Homo sapiens: one gene and its partner. The protein of the gene in region 1 interacts with the protein of each later gene in a pairwise test. Each region holds a gene or a part of one and is shown on either strand. Other genes may lie near its edges. The genes, in order: TRHR and TMEFF2.

Region 1 (7,680 bases):
CTGGACACAGCAAAATAAACTGCTAAAAAATTTAAGTGTTTTAGATATGCATGAAATGAATAATGAGCCATAACTTAAAGGAAACATATACTGCATTTTAAATGGTGCTGTAATACTTGGTTTATATAATACTTATTATTAAAGATAACTAGATGACAGAAGAAAGACCTAAACAACTATTGTCAGCTCTTAGATTTCTTTTGCCTTGGATCTAGTAGTGATACCTAATATAAGGCTTATTCAGCCATTTATTACCCAAAACTTGATTAATGGAAATTTAGAGAGATCTATTGACTATCTTCCAAGACAAACATTGACAAATATAATAAGAAAGCAAAGAATATGTACATCTCAATTAGACACCAAACATGGGTTAATGTCTGCAGCAAGGAAGATCAGGGAGTAAATTCATTCATTAGACTCCAATTTGCATTCCTGCTATACATTTTTAAAACTTGTTTGTCTTGTCTAATGTCCTTTCTTTCCATTACAGTCATTAGTACCTATCAGCATTAATATGCTTTAATTTGCTAATTATGTTACATGTTCACAGTCTTATTTCAAAGCTGTTACCGATAAGCTGTCCTTACAGAGGCTGTATGATAGAAGAAAAAGCCAAAGACTTGGCTCCAAACAACCTTGGGCTTAAATGCCAGGATTCCATTCAAACTCTATAAACTTGGATAAGCAGAACTCTGTGAGCCTTAGTTTTGTCATCTGTTAAATGAGATAAATAGCAATATCCAAGATCAGTGTAAGGATCCATGAAATACCTCATGAAAAATGCCTAAATTGGAGTGGTGATTAACAACTGAGTATTAACTGGCTCCTTCTCAATTTTTAAAAATATTTTGGCAACTGTGAGGGAACTACAGGTTTTTCCTTAAAAATACACATTCACTGCTTTAACAAAGATTACTTGTTGAACAAATGTGTATATGACGTGGTAACTTCTTTAAGGAGTTTTTTTAAATAATTAGAGCATTTGGAAATACATTCTGAGCATTTGGGGTTGTCACATTAACACCACTGTCAGTTAGCCTCCAAGAATAAGGAATGAAGTTCCCTTGTTGCAAATACCAATAACACCCTAATTGAGAAACATGGAGTGACACATAAGCCAATAGGAGTGTATTTAAGTAGTGTGTCTTGTAATTCAACCCTGATTATAGATGGGATGTGAGTTCAGAGAAAAGAAGGAAAATTACTGGGCTACAGGGATCAGAGAAGTCTTTATGGAAGAGGTGGCATTTGAGATGGCTCTGGAAGGATGAAGATAATTTGAAAAGTAAAAGTCAAGAAGGACAGTATTCCATGCATAAAGGACAAGACATAGTGGCTGGGATGAGAATGGCATGGGTTTGGAGAGGGGCCAAGAAGGGGCACATAGAGTGGGACTTATGTGATGGAGCGACTTAGTTGTCTGAAATGAATGATGTATTTGTGGGAGTGGTAAAAAGTAAGACTGGATTGATGTGTGAAAGTGAAAGAAGAGAAAGAGACAGAGAGACAGAGAAGGCTGTGGAGGATCCAGACAATCAGGCAAAGAAAGGAATTTGCACTTAATGCAGAGGCAACAAAGAATGTGAGTGATGAGCAGGGAGCAGCAGTGATGAAATGGTGTTCAGGGATGAGAAATCTGACAGCCGTCGGGGAGGCAGATTTGAAGAGAGAGAGATTGGTGGAAGAAAGACCACTTTGGAAGTTGTTAGTAGTGATACAGGCATGAGGCAGTAAGATCCTCTATCAGGAGAATTTAAAGTAAAGAGTATACCAGAAAGATGTTTCAAAGAAAGAAAGGGTGTGATGTGAACATATTAGACATAAAGGATGAAGAAAGGACAATTCAATATGGCCCCAGGATTCTGAGTCTGGAAGAATGTGGTGCCCCGATCAGTGGGAATGAGAACAGTGAAGGGGAGCTAGTTTTGTACAAAATTAGTGACCTGCTTTTTTCTTCTTCCAAAATAGTTATTTTCTTAAACCTTTGAAAGGTTCAAACCTCCACCTTCTATAGCCAAAGGACTTTAATTTTAATATTTTCTCTGCATTTTTTTCTTTTAGGAAAGTTTAACTTACAGTTTAATAAATACTCATCTGGGTCAGGTCTTTCTAATCAAGTTCTTAAATTCAAATGTGCATAGCCTAAAAGAGAAACATTTAAAAAGGAAGTAAAAGAGCATTTACATGTAAGGGACAAATGTGAGTTTCTTCCTTATTTGTTTTTAACTTTCATTCTCTATGCAGAAAATCCAGGCCAAAATCTTTGTTTTCTTTTATTCAGAGATTCAATTATATTTTAGGAAAACATCTAAATGTTGGGTAAATTCCGTAAGATAAATTACCCAAACTTATGGCTTGGAATTGTGTAAACTAAACGGATTATCTGACTAAATACATTGCTTTTATAGTTTGTTATTTTAATATAAAGGAGACATTGTTTAAATTATCATATTTGTCTCATTTCAGCTCTATCTACACAATGCCTCAAGAGTCCCTCAGTTCAGTCAATTCAGGGGTTCAACATTATGTAGATACAATATCTCTATCATTGACTGTGTATTTCTATGTAATTGATTGGATTTTTGGTATTTTGAAAGCACAGAAACACCTGAACATCTTAGTAAAATGTAATATCAATAAATACATTCAATTCAAATATGTACTTTCTACAGGATGCAGAAATATGCAGAATATTTTATAGATTTATAAAACAGGCTACCAGTTTTATTATCAATGGAGTTGCTTCAATAATTTTTTTCTTAATTCTTACACAATAACAAGTAGAGAAACCATGTAACATAGTCTTAATAGAAGCTCTAAGAGTAATGGCAGAATTTTTACTATGGAATTCACTTGACTCATCAAGCCTTAAAAATATCGGTCTTTGTTTCCATGAAACTATTAAACATCTAGAAGGAATATTGGTAGCCCAAGAAACAGAAACAACTTTCCTTTTTATTTATTATTTATTTATTTATTTTTATTTTATTTATTTATTTATTTATTTTTGAGATAGAGTCTCCCTCTGTAGCCCAGGCTGGAATGCAGTGGCAGTATCTCAGCTCACTGCAACCTCTGCCCCCAGGATTCTAGAGATTCTTCTGCCTCAGCCCCCTGAGTAGCTGGGATTACAGGTGTGCGCCAACACACCTGGCTAATTTTTTTCTATTTTTAGTAGAGACAGGGTTTCACCATGTTGGCCAGACTGGTCTTGAACTCCTGACCTCAGGTGATACGCTAGTCTCGGCCTTCCAAAGTACTGGGATTACAGGCTTGAGCCACCGCACCCGGCACAACTTTCCTTTTTAAAGTAATGCACGCCTTTTGCTGTTATTGGTGATAATGACAATGATGCTATAAAAGCAGTCATGTGTATTATGGAAAATATAGAAAACTAGGAATAGGCAAAAGCCATCTCTTACCTCCTGACCCCACCTCTCAAAGACCAAAATCATCATCATTTTGTTATACCGCTTTTCTTATGTTTTCACTGGATCTTTTTTTTTTTTAAACACAATTATAGTCAAATGTATATGTAGTTTTGGCTTCCTGGTTTTCCACATACAATTTTGGAAATAATATTCTCAAAGAGAAAGCACAAGGCAAAGCAAAAGAAAGTGATCAGGATTAAGTTTGTTTCTCTGAGCCTCAGTTTTCTCATCAATAAAACAGGAAAAATAATGACCTCATAGTGCTATTGCTGAAGTCATATGAGATATATCAGAAAAAATTCAGATCTGCTTTCCTCCCACCTGTCCAGCCACCTACTCTTCCCTCTCTCCCATGTGTCTCAGTGATCCCCACCTCGCTGGGCACCCTCCTGACCCTCTCTTAAGCTCTCCTCAGTCATACAATGCTCATGGAAAATGAAGACACTCAGATAAAGAACTGGCTTCCATGTGTCTTCCGTCTTCTCCCCTGCCTCACTCCAACTCCTACCTCTAGTGCTATTTACTTTTTTTTTTTTTTTTTTTTTTTTGAGACAGAGTCTCACCCTGTCACCAGGCTGGAGTGCAGTGGTGCGATCTCGGCTCACTGCAACCTCCGACTCCCGTGTTCAAGCAATTCTCCTGCCTCAGCCTCCCGAGTAGCTGGGATTACAGGCATGCACCACCATGGCCAGCTAATTTTTGTTTTTTTAGGAGAGACGGGGTTTCACCACGTTGGCCAGGATAGTCTCGATCTCCTGACCTCACGATCCGCCAGCCTTGGCCTCCCAAAGTGCTGGGATTACAGGCATGAGCCACCATGCCCGGCCTATTTACTTTTTAAAGAATACATGTTTTGGGGTATGAATGAATGTTTAATTAAATTTGGGGAAGATATTGAACAATAATGACCTACTGCAAAATTTTACTTAGTGTTGACCCAGCTCTACCTTTAGAACTTTTGCTTTCCCTCCAACTCATTTAAAAAAAAAAAAAAAAGACTAAGAAGATAGTTACCGACCAGCCTTCACCTGTCTGGAACTTGGGGTATTAGTTTGCATTTTGAAGAATTCATGAGAGGCTACGTAAAACCTGTAAGACACATAGGAAAGGAGGCACAATGTTGGAATGTCAGGCAGTAGGCCTGGCATTTGGGACCATAAAATCTCATAAATTGTAAACGTAAGCAGCTGCCAGCTCCACCTACATCTAAGAGAACCTTTACTCAACAGACTCATTCTTCTCCCCAGGTAGCTTAATCAATGGTTAAGCTCACAAGGCAAATTAATGGTATTAAACTCTTCAGCATTAGGCCTAAATTAGAGGTTTCCTGAGAGTACTGAGGCTACAGGCTCATCTTTCATTTTTTTTTTTTCATTTTTCAAAATTTTTTTAGAGATGGAGGCCTTGCTCTGTCATGCAGGCTGGTGTGCAGTGGTGCAATCATAGCTTACTGCAACTTCTACCTCTTGAGTTCAAGAAATCATCCTGCTTCAGTCTCCCAAGTAGCTGGGACTACAGGTGCACACTGCTGCGCCCAGCTTATCTTTCATTTTTAATTGTATTATTTATTCCAATGTCTGGGTTCAACTATATACTTAATAGTGTAAATATCTCTAAGTTCAGGAGAAAAATGTGTAATTTTTGTGACAGCTCACAGCTAAGTGTGCCATTTTATTTTTATTAAAGAATAGTTTTCTATTTTCTGATTCACATCCTGTATAAGAAAAGATTTTGTACATATCCTATAAGTTGACTAATAATCTCCTAAAGTTGTGTGTTTTGTGTGCTTTTAGATAAGTACACATTGTTTATTCCTAATTTTATATTTGCATGTTGCAAATATAAAATTAGGAATAAACAATGTGTCTTTATGAATAATTGAGCAATAATTTCACTAGCAGATAAAAATAAATTATTCCATATGCCTACAAAAAAGAAAGACCTATGCTCCTATAGAATTCAATCTGATCACACAAGAAACATCATAAAATCAGCTAAACTTGAAGATGACAAACTACTTTATACTTCTTTACATAGTCTCTCATTAATTCTTCAACATGCACACAGATACTCCAAGTTCCAGACAGATGAAGTCTGATTGGTAAGTATGTTCTTAGTCTCCTTTAGGTTTTTTTTTTTAATGAGTTGGGGTAAAAAGCAAAAGTTATAATGCTCGAGCTGGGTCAGTGTTAAGCAAAATTTTGCAGTAGGTCATTCTTATTCAATATGTCCCCTAATTTAATTAAACATTCATTCACATCCAAAAAGCCCCTAGCACTATCCTAGGTATAGAGGCTACAGGGATATATAAAGACAAACTCTTTGTCTTCAAGGAGCTTAATATGGGCCATGTACACAAACAATTCTGAGCATACCACTACATTCTATGAGAGAGAACGTGGCATCAATGAGAGGAGAAAGAAAATGGGGGGAGGCTTTTGGAGTACATGGTATTTGAACTGGACCTATAAAGGTGTGATGAATGTCTACAAGCAGCTATAAAGTCAGAGAAAAAAGAAGGAAAGTTCAACAGAAAGGGGGAAGTAGATGGGAGAAGACTGGGCACGTTCAGGGAGGGAATAATCTGGTATTGTTGAAGCAAGCTATGGAAGGGAAGCGTCTAGAGAAGGAAGTCTGAGCCAGATTGTGGTCCTGCTACACCTAATTCCCGCCTCTCCTCCCCATCCTGTCCCTTGTCATTCTACATACTTTCTTCTACGCCCATGCTTACAACTTTCACCTGAGTCTTCAGTGTGTAGCTTCAGAAAAGACATCTCCTGACCCATACATACAATTGCTTTTTGGACATCACATAATTACACCAAATCCAATAGGTCTAAAGCAAAACACATTATTTTGCCTTATAAACTTCTACCTCTTTCTTTCTTTCCTGTGTTAGATTCCCAAACCAGAAACCTGGGGGTCCTTCTAAGTGCCTTTTTCTCCTGTTATCCCCCCGCCCCCCATAGCTAAGCAATAGCCACATCCTAGTGATTCCAGCTCATTATTCTCCTGCTGACCTACTTCTCCACTCGCACCGCTGCTGCCCTGGTTCACTGCCTCTCACTGCCCTATTTCACTGCACACCTTACCAGCCTCTCTGGCTCCCATGGCACTCTCCTCCAAATCATTCTGCACATTGCTCACTAAAGGATCTCTCTAACACAGAGATACTATTTGCATAATTTTTACACTCCCCTGAGCACTGGAATTTTAACTCCTTAGCGTCACAAGTAAGAGCTTGTCCCTTTCCTACATTTTCGGCTTCCTCTCACGTGGCTCTCCCAACTTACATATTACGCTCCAGCAATTCTGAATTATTTGTAGTTCTCTGAACATGCTGCGTTCCCTAAGCTGGAACACTGTTCATCTTGCAAACTCCCAATTATTTTTCAAGTCATAAATCAAATGATGCCCAGCCACCTCATCAAGCCTTCACTGAATTTCTCAGGTAGATTTATATAGCTGCATTCCTAACTACATATATGTTAGGTGTTCTTCCTATATTTCCACAGTACTTTGCATACACATGTGCTTTAGTAATTCTTGGTCCTCATAATTGGTAGCATGTCTTCCCACTCTCACTAACATCCCAAAGAGTAGGGCCTTGCATTGTGGTACCCTCAGCCCTGCATTTGGCTACAGTAGGTTCCCCAAAGTGTACACACTCAGTGGTGTGTAGCTGCCAAGGAGTACAGGCTTTGCAAGAGCAGGTGATTAGTCTCACTCCCCAACTCCGCATTCAGTGCCATCACACTGGTGGCTTAAAATTGGTCATGGTTGAATTACTTACTTTACAAAATCAGCAAATATGACAAGCCAGGGCCCCCTCTTTTTTTGTGGAGAGATGGTTGTTAAATACTTATCAGCACACTTTTGTGTTTGTGTGTATGTATATATACAAATATATGTGTATATATATATAAAAAAACATGTAATTTTACAAATATAGTAAATGAAAGTGTGAAAGAGTTCATTCGTACGGACTTAGGGTCTCGGTCAAGTCCAACACTCTATTTTGCTTCCTGAAAAATTATCCTTACATGTGACATATTCTTCTCTGATTTTACTTAAAATCTCCTTGTCTTTTATTAAATCTTTTTTGAATTCCCAAAATAACAAAAGTGCAACTTGCCAGTACGATGGTGATTGTGTTAGTGGAGAAGATGTTTTAGGAAGATTTCCCCCTCCAAATAGGACAGGCTGATTTGGAAACATGGCAAACTCAGATAATTGACTTCATTGT
Region 2 (8,533 bases), on another chromosome or scaffold:
AGAAGGGTCAGAGAAACATAATTTTCCTTTGACATCCCAAAAGCACAACCTGAAGCTTTCTACCTCCAGCAGCATTTATAACTTTGGCATATACATTTCTCCAAAAAGCGTATGTCTTCTTGACATCAGTTGGCTCTCTTGCTAGTACTTTTGCTTGGTGCCAGCTTCCCTCTTAGCTTGCATAGCTATAAATTTCCAAGTGATAGGCTGTAAAGGAAGATTCCTGCTTTGCAGTCTCATTAATGAATTAGAAGATGCAAATATAAGACTTCTTACCTTGAACTGACAGACGCAAGTCACAGTGTCTCCAATTCTTAAACATTCCCCATCAAATTTACAGGTGTTGGTGTCACAGAGGAAGAGATCATTTTCTCTGTCATCATAACCTCAAATTCAAAGAGAACACTCCAGTCATTAAAACATCTTACAGATTTTTAACAAAAAAAAGCACTACTTTGAAGCTTTAAAATACTTGTCCTAAATTTTAAATCCAACAACTATAGCTGTACTGCAAGGTCACTGTCTACTGATAACCTCAAAATCTAGTTAAGTGATCAATATTCGTTTCCATTTTCCACAATTCTTTTCTAGTCAATTCTCCTTTAGTATCCTTTTCTGATAGTGCTATTTTTTAAAGCTTGCGTTAATACTGACAGTGGTGAATGAAAGCTTAACATTTGCTTCCTGTTTTTTTTTTATTTTTATTTTTTGCTCATTAGGTGGACAATATTTATGACCACAAAACTCCACATTTTGGAAAAGAGCTAGTGATGATCTCTGAATACCCTTTTACCATTTCCCCATCTTTAATTGTTCTTTTGCTTCAACGACTGAAACAACCCCTTATTTGAAATGTATCCAGACAAAGAGGAAACAAAGCCTCAATAATAAAGATAAACAGGCACAGTGTTTTCTGTGATGGTCTGTTTGGCTCAAATGAAGATTGATCACCTCTAAGTTAACAGGGGTGGAAGCGGGGTGCCAAGTTCTTGACAACCTATCTGCAAAACCAGTTTATTCTCTTTAGTTTATGCAGTCCCCTTTAAAATATCTGGTAAATATGTAATTTCTTGATTGCAAATGTCAACTTCACATTTAAGTTAGTTATTTCCTAAAACAATGCAAGGGCTAGGAATGAAGCAAACCAGTCTGTGTTGGACTACAAAGCCATCAACATTTCCAAAAATTGTTTTTGCAGGCTCATAATTATTACCATAATAAAGCATCTAAAAAGTGATTAGGCAATAGCAAAGTGAAACTTATTCTTTCAAAAACAACACACATGTACGCATGAATCAAGAAGTTATAGAAACATGTTGAGTTTTATTAAAATGCCAAATTTAGAAACTGCCAAAAAAGAGAACAATCTATTGACCCAAATCTAATAGGGTTGCATATCTCAACTTGTCTTTGTAAAGGATAAATTAGAATGATGCATAATAATTTTCCTTTTGGCATTTACATCAGTAATAACTAGGAACTATACAGGCTTTCACCCTGAGTTACAGTTGGTCATTCCCTCCTCTCTAAAGTTACATACACTTCAGCTTATATACATCTTTGAAAGACACTTTATTCAGAGCCAGATTTAACTACAGCAAAATTATATTCACAGAAGATGAAAAATTACATACACACTTGCTAAAACTAGAACAGACCACACCTAGGGGACAATACCCAGGCATGTTAACGGAGTTTAAAATGCCAAGGAAATTACACCACAATTCTGCCCAGTATACTACAGGCTGTCAAACCGAAATGCTATGCCAGCTAGGAGTGCAGCAACTCCCATCCTCTGGCCCTATTTAATTAGGAAGCTTCAGCAGAGCGAAGCCTGCCAAGCGTTCGCCGTCAGAATCTGAAGGAACCCGAGCGAGCAAGAAGAGTGCCTGACCCACTCCACAGAAGCCTGTCCAGAAATGGAGGAGTCAGCGCCCACTGAAGTCGGTTCCGCCCTCGGCTCGCCTACATGGAGCCTGACCAGCCTCAGTCATGCCCACTCCGGCCTGGGAGACCCGCAAAGTGTTCTTTTTCTCAACTCCCCTGTACTACCTTGAAGCTTAGGGAAGCAAAGAGAGGGGCATATCTGGACTGCAAAACCAATGTCTTTTGCCGCCTAGGAGAGAAGGGAATGAGAGAGAGAGAGAGATAGATAGATAGAGAGAGAGAGAGAGAGAGAGAGAGAGAGAGAGAGAGAGAGAGAGAAATTCTATTGAAACCCAGCTCCTCTAGAATCTGTGTGACCTGGTCTTCAACGGGAGACCAGTGCGACCTCATGGCACCTTTGCCAGGAATCAGCGATTCCCCTGCAGTCACCATTTGATTTATTGCTTTCTCGCTCATTCTTTCTCATAAAGTTATTTCTTCCTCATCCTAGTAAGACTTTTTTCTTTAATGATGACAAAGCTTCTGTTTCAGTGTTTCCCCTAGGATTGGTGCTCTTTCAAAACAGTGAACCCAGAAAACCATCCCGTTTAATATTTCTCAAAATCCTCGCAGCTCCAATGTAAGCGCAAGCATGCAAAGGTTTCCTGCTACACCTGCACTTTCTGCCCATCCCAGAACCACCCCTCACCCCCGGGCCTGCAACAGTTCCCCTTGTTTCTCTGGATAGAGGTGGGTGGTATTAGGGGTCTAGGGCAGTAGGAGGTGAGGGGCTGAGGAGGCGCGCTAGGGTAGGCTGGTCTGTGCTGGATACGCGTGTTCTTCTGCGGAGTTAAAGGGTCGGGGACGGGGGTTCTGGACTTACCAGAGCAATTCCAGCCGGTGGGCGTTTGGCAGTCACTTAAGGAGGTAGGGAAAGCAGCGAGCTTCACCGGGCGGGCTACGATGAGTAGCATGACGGGCAGCAGCAGCAGCCAGCAAAAGCCCTCGCAAAGTGTCCAGCTGCTGCACTGCCGCGGGGACTCCCACAGCACCATGACTAGTTCGTGCAACTCTGCAGCAGCAAACGGCTTCCGAGGAACACAGGATCGCGGGGGCCGGGCAGCGGGCTACTGAGCATCCCGCGGACGGCGGCAGCAGAGGCGGCGGCGGTGGCAGTGGCACCCGGCGGGGAAGCAGCAGCCAAACCCGCGCATGATCTCGAGAGTTTCAGCAACATCCAGGGACTGGGCTCAGCCCCGGAGCGAGAGGGTCGTCCGCTGAGAAGCTGCGCCGGAGACGCGGGAAGCTGCTGCCATAAGGAGGGAGCTCTGGGAAGCCGGAGGACAGGAGGAGACGGGAGTCCAGGGGCAGACGAGTGGAGCCCGAGGAGGCAGGGTGGAGGGAGAGTCAAGGCGCCCCGCAGCCCGGCAGCCGCCTCTCGAGCTCTGCCGCCCGCATCCCTCTGGCGTTTGGGAAGCAGCAGGTCCTCAGCCCGCCCGGGGTCACGTGGGAAGAGGCAGTCGGGCTCTGATTGGTGGAGCAGGATGCAGGTCCCGGGAGGGAGGGGTCGACGAGGAGGTGCAAGGATGCAAGGAGGAGGCGGCCGCGGAAGCCACAGATGGGCTCGCTCGCCAGGCGCTGGCCCGAGTGGGGCTAGGCGGGGATGGCTCAAATGAGAAGCTCGGGCTTCAGGGTGGGCTACCCGCACACTCATATACCATTCGCCTCACTCTCCGCTCCAGGACGCCCCCTACCGAAGGCGGGGTCCGGACTAGCGCCCCTCTTCCGCGCGTGACCCCGGGCCGCGAGTGCGGGCCGCGGCTGGGTGGCGTCTCTCCGAGCTGGAGATGGTGGGGGCGGAGGTGTCAGAGGAGCAGCAGCAGCAGGGCAGAGAGGGGCGAGTCGGCGCGGGAGAGGGCGTCCTGCTGGCGACCGGCGCTCCAGCGTGCGGGAGCGCGCCGCCTAGGCTGTAGGGGGATGCAGGCTGGGAATGTCGCGGCGGAGAGGCCAGGGACGTTTCTCTAGGGATTTACAGGAAAGAGGGTGAGAGGCGATGGTGTTAGAACCGCTCTTGCCGACCTGGAAGCAACAGCAGCATCTCCCACAAGAGCGTGCAACCCCAAGGCTGCTCGCCGAGGCAGCTCAGCCATCCCGGCAGGCGCTCTCCTTCCTTCTCTCTTCTCCCCTCTCTCCTCCCAGGCCCCCCGCAGCTCCGACCCAGCCCAAGCGTTCGCAGGTTTGAATCCCTCTCCTCATCACCCGCTCCTCTCCAGCCCGTAGCCTATTAGTGTGTCCACCTGGGAGGTGCGGTCAGATGTGTTTGGAAGGTCAGATTGGTCGGGACAAGTGGTCTGAGAGAAAGAGAAAGGCTCCTCTGCATACGCCGCGGGTGGGTTGCCGGGAGCATCGGCCGGGCAGCGGCGTCCGGGAAGGGGAGAGCGGGCTCCATTTGTTGGCCCAGGCAGTGACCCTGCGTTCCTTACTCGGGTCTTTGCCGGATGGCCGGTGACCTGGGGCGACGAGAGAAGGTCTAACTCGGCAGGAGTCTCTGGCTCTGCGCGTTTCTTTCATTCTCTCCAGCGGGAAGGGCAAACGGCATAGCGGGACCCGCCTTCCGTCTGCTGCATTCTTCAGGCAGTTAGACACACTCTTTAGCCTAATGGAATTTTAGTCGCCAGTAACGGGACCAAGAGCTTTCGGGGACAAGGGTGGAGAGGAACATCTTTCTTCCATGACCGGGGTCACTATTGCAGTCTCAGTGTTTTGGATGCCCCATAGGGAAGAGCTTTCTTTTTGGTGTGTGATTATTCAGTGATTCCTGTTTTTGTTTTTGTTTATCTTCTCTCCGCTCTCCTTCTCTATTCCTCTCTGTTATCCCTCCTCCTTCTTCTCCCCCCGCTTTCAAAAGCCTCCGGATCCTCCCTTTTTCTATTTAAATTCTCCTTTTGTGCCCCTCTTTCTGTGTCCCCTGAATTTAGGAGAGCATTTGATAACATTTAACAGGCAATTAGTGTCCATTCCCAATCACTTAAAAGAGGCATTCATATACTTTGAAAACGGGACTATCTATCCTTTGCAGACACCAGCAGAAAAACAAATTGTACCCGAGTAATCCTTTTAAGTACTTTAACCTCCAACCTCCTCCCACTTCCTTGCTTTTTAACTTCTCCTTTGAGAGATGTGATCGTGCAGCACCTCAGTGCCTCAACGAAATCTTTTTTTTTTTCCTGTGTGAAATCCATCCCTTTATCTTACATCTCCGCCTCCGTCCGAGACTGTCCCTCTCCCCTCCCACCTCCAAAGATTTCTGAATCTCAGTGTCTCTCACTCCTGGCAATTAAGCAGCAGATCCCAGCATTCTAGTCGGTGGCATCTCGCTCCTCACCGACGAAGACTCCATTAAAACAGATCAATTAGACCAGACGTTGGAGGCATCAGAAAATCGGCTTCTAGACAGAGCAGCTAAATTCTTTAAGGAAACAGAATACCCATTAGATAGAGCTGCCAACTAATATTGCAAAACAAGGAATTAGAAATTTCTTTCGCTACAGGCTTTCAGCAGAGAAGGCAACATAAATATAGATCAAGATTTAACAACTCTACAGCAGAGAATGAGAACATGTCATTTTCCATAGCAAGGCTGGTGTGGTAACTAATCAGGCTTATGAAAATAAGTCATGCTTGAAACTAAAGGCAAAGTCCTTAAAAGTGTTTATGCAGTAATTATGATAATGAAACAGGACCTGCTAGGATTTCAGAGTTTGGCTATGTAAGTAGAATTTTAGAGAACCTCTTAGCAGAGGAAAACTGTTTTTGAATTTTCTGCTAAGTAAATTTTTGGCATACTTTCTAATAATATATGCTCTTCCTAAGACGTTTTGCCAAAAGTAAGTTAAAACTCCAAAGGAGTTAATTACTGGTTGTAACTGGTTAACAAATGCGGTTGCTTCCACAGAGGTCCTTTAAATTATTAAACAGTTTGAAGCAAAGCCTTTTCAATGGGAATGCTGCAATTTTGTTGCACTTACTCTGTACTTAGTGTTATAGTGCCACCAAGAAACAAATTCTGAAACTGGCAAGCACCACCAAGTGGCAGAAGAACATCACTCATTGAGCAGAGAATTGTATTACTGAATATGTAAATAAAAATATATACATTATTTAGACTTGTCACTAGGTACCAAAGAAGTAGACAAGACTGCATTAGCAATTGGATTAGTGCTTTAACTTTTCCCCAGCAAGGCAAAATCAGTTTACTTATTAGAATTAAATTTAAGTCTATGAACTGTACTTTGCATTGCGTATCATATGATTGCTAGTAATATGACACAATCATACCATGTATTTGCAAAATTCTTATTTTAAAATACTATACCATATTTACTTTCAATCTTCTTGAGCTAGAACACTTTATTTGTGGCATATACACTCTAGAATTGATGCAGAGGAGCAGAGTCCAGTTGTTAGATTTTTCAGTAGAAATAGTGCAGATATATTTTCTCCAGAAAACTTAAGAACATTTTTTTTTCTCATGGAAAGAACATCATTATAAAGTGTGAGATTACTCACAGCTTAAGTAGGGGGCTTGGGAGTTATTCTCCAACAAGAATAGTTTAAGATAAATAAATGAACCTGGGAAAATAAGATACACTGCCAATCAGAACTCTTATCTCCTTCATGATTTCATACTTTCTGATTGCTTCAATAAAGGTAAGATGTATCCTTTGCTTCTTAGGTGTCAGGCATTGTGCCATGTAGGATAGAACATGTTATTTTTATTTAATCTTTAAAACACCCCTATGAGACAAAGAATATTATCTCATTTTATATAAAAGGAATATGGCTTTGAAAGCATCAGGCAACTTGCCCCAAGAAACAAATCTCGTCAGTGACACTGCTGGGACTCTGTGAAATTCTGCCTGACTTCAGAGCACAAGACATAAGTCACTAATTTCTGCTGTATTGCTGCCTGTTAGCTTCTGAGAGGGGAAACTAACTGGGAACGTATCAGTTCTGTCCATGATACTTCATTTGCCCTTTCTGTGGAGCCGCAGTAAGGCCCAAACTTTAATTCTCAAACTTCGGCAATAAGATCCAGTGATTTCTGAACCTGGTTGATCATATGAATTCCTTGAGAAACTTTGAAACAATAGACAAATTCCAAGTCCCACTATCAGGGATTCAGAAAATCTGGAGTTGGGCCTTGGGATCCACATTTCAATATTCATCCTTGTTGGAGAAGTAAGGTACCACCTATACCTATATGACAAATGAAAGGATACCTCGATTTTTGCTCAGTTTTCACAGAGAGGTTTCTGAGACAGGTTAAAAGCTTTTACTCAGTGTAAAGATGAGCTGTTGTACATGTCTGTCTCTCTGTTTTTATGCATATGTTCACCAAATATGTATTAAGCTTCTAATATGTCTGACACAGTAACTTTGTGACTGTAGACAATTTCCTCATTTGTAAAATGTGAGTAATAACAATACCTGCCTCCTGGGCTTGTTCTAAAGATTAAAATAAAAATGTATGGTTTAATGGTAGTGGATTTGGGGGGATCCCCTATATAAATAAGTGAATGGAGGTATGAATAAATAAATACATAAAGATGTGTGTACTTATATTTATACACATAATTAAAAATAGTTAAAGATGTACAAATTAAAGTTAAATGTATGTGATATTGAAGTATATGTTGATTATTGATAATGAAGTACAGTATAATTTCTAACCCCACACCTTAACATCTCATACTTAATAACTCATATCTTAATTTCTAGCCTACTTAAGATACATAGATATAGATAGAATGTTCTAAATCATTATTGCCTTAGTTTTAATGTATAATATTCATATGAAAAAGTATCTATCAGTGTGTAGTAAATGTATTAGAACATTATTTATAGGTCAAATGATATTGACAATGTTTCAGAGTCGTCATCTTCATTTCTGGATAATTTTTCAAACTGAGAGTAATTAAATTTGCTATTTTTTCACCCTTTTCTACAATGGCAAATAACATATAAACAATGAGCTGTGATTTAAAGAAATAATTTTATAATGTAAAAGCTTCCCTATGCCTTATTGATTCCCATGCCCTTAATTAATTTTGGTAGTTTAAGTTTGTGATTTCAGTGCTGAGGAAAGTTTATTTCATCTTAGAGCAGTGGGGCTCAGTCATGATTTCACATCACAATCACCTGGATAATTAAAGAATACTGATGCAGAGTTCGTATTCAAAGACTTGGAATCCCTAGAAGTGACACAGAAGCATTGGTATATATATATTTTTAAAGTTTTCCTGGAGAAACACATAGCCATGATTGAGAACCACTGTCCTGGGGAAAGTGACTATTTTCTCATTACTCAAATAGCCAAGTTTCAGGAGGTAAAATACTTACATTTTTCTCCATTAAAACTTGTAAAACACATATCTCACCAAAGACTATTAAAACATCTAGCCAAAGCAATATGAACTAGTTAATGTTTGCCACTAGCTTGCCAGTAGTTAAAAAAAAAAAAAGGAAGAACTGTTATTGGAAGAGAGCTAGATTTAATAAGCAGTAGTCATCTCTATACAATCTGGTGTCTTTTTATTTATAAATTCAAGTAGGTTTCCATTGCTATTAATTTAATCATAGCCTTCTTAGGGCTTAGCCTAATGCT

What was found.
Region 2: the proteins of TRHR (region 1) and TMEFF2 interact in binary tests that used the Homo sapiens proteins (3 or more experiments, as listed by UniProt).

Annotation. Positions count from the first base shown.
Region 1 is NC_000008.11:109,089,443-109,097,122, forward strand, and holds part of TRHR (thyrotropin-releasing hormone receptor), read left to right. Parts: intron 1-7,680. UniProt on the Homo sapiens protein: Receptor for thyrotropin-releasing hormone (TRH). Upon ligand binding, this G-protein-coupled receptor triggers activation of the phosphatidylinositol (IP3)-calcium-protein kinase C (PKC) pathway.
Region 2 is NC_000002.12:192,191,604-192,200,136, forward strand, and holds the start of TMEFF2 (tomoregulin-2 isoform 1 precursor), read right to left. Parts: upstream 3,331-8,533; 5' UTR 2,922-3,330; coding exon 2,750-2,921; intron 387-2,749; coding exon 277-386; intron 1-276. UniProt on the Homo sapiens protein: May be a survival factor for hippocampal and mesencephalic neurons. The shedded form up-regulates cancer cell proliferation, probably by promoting ERK1/2 phosphorylation.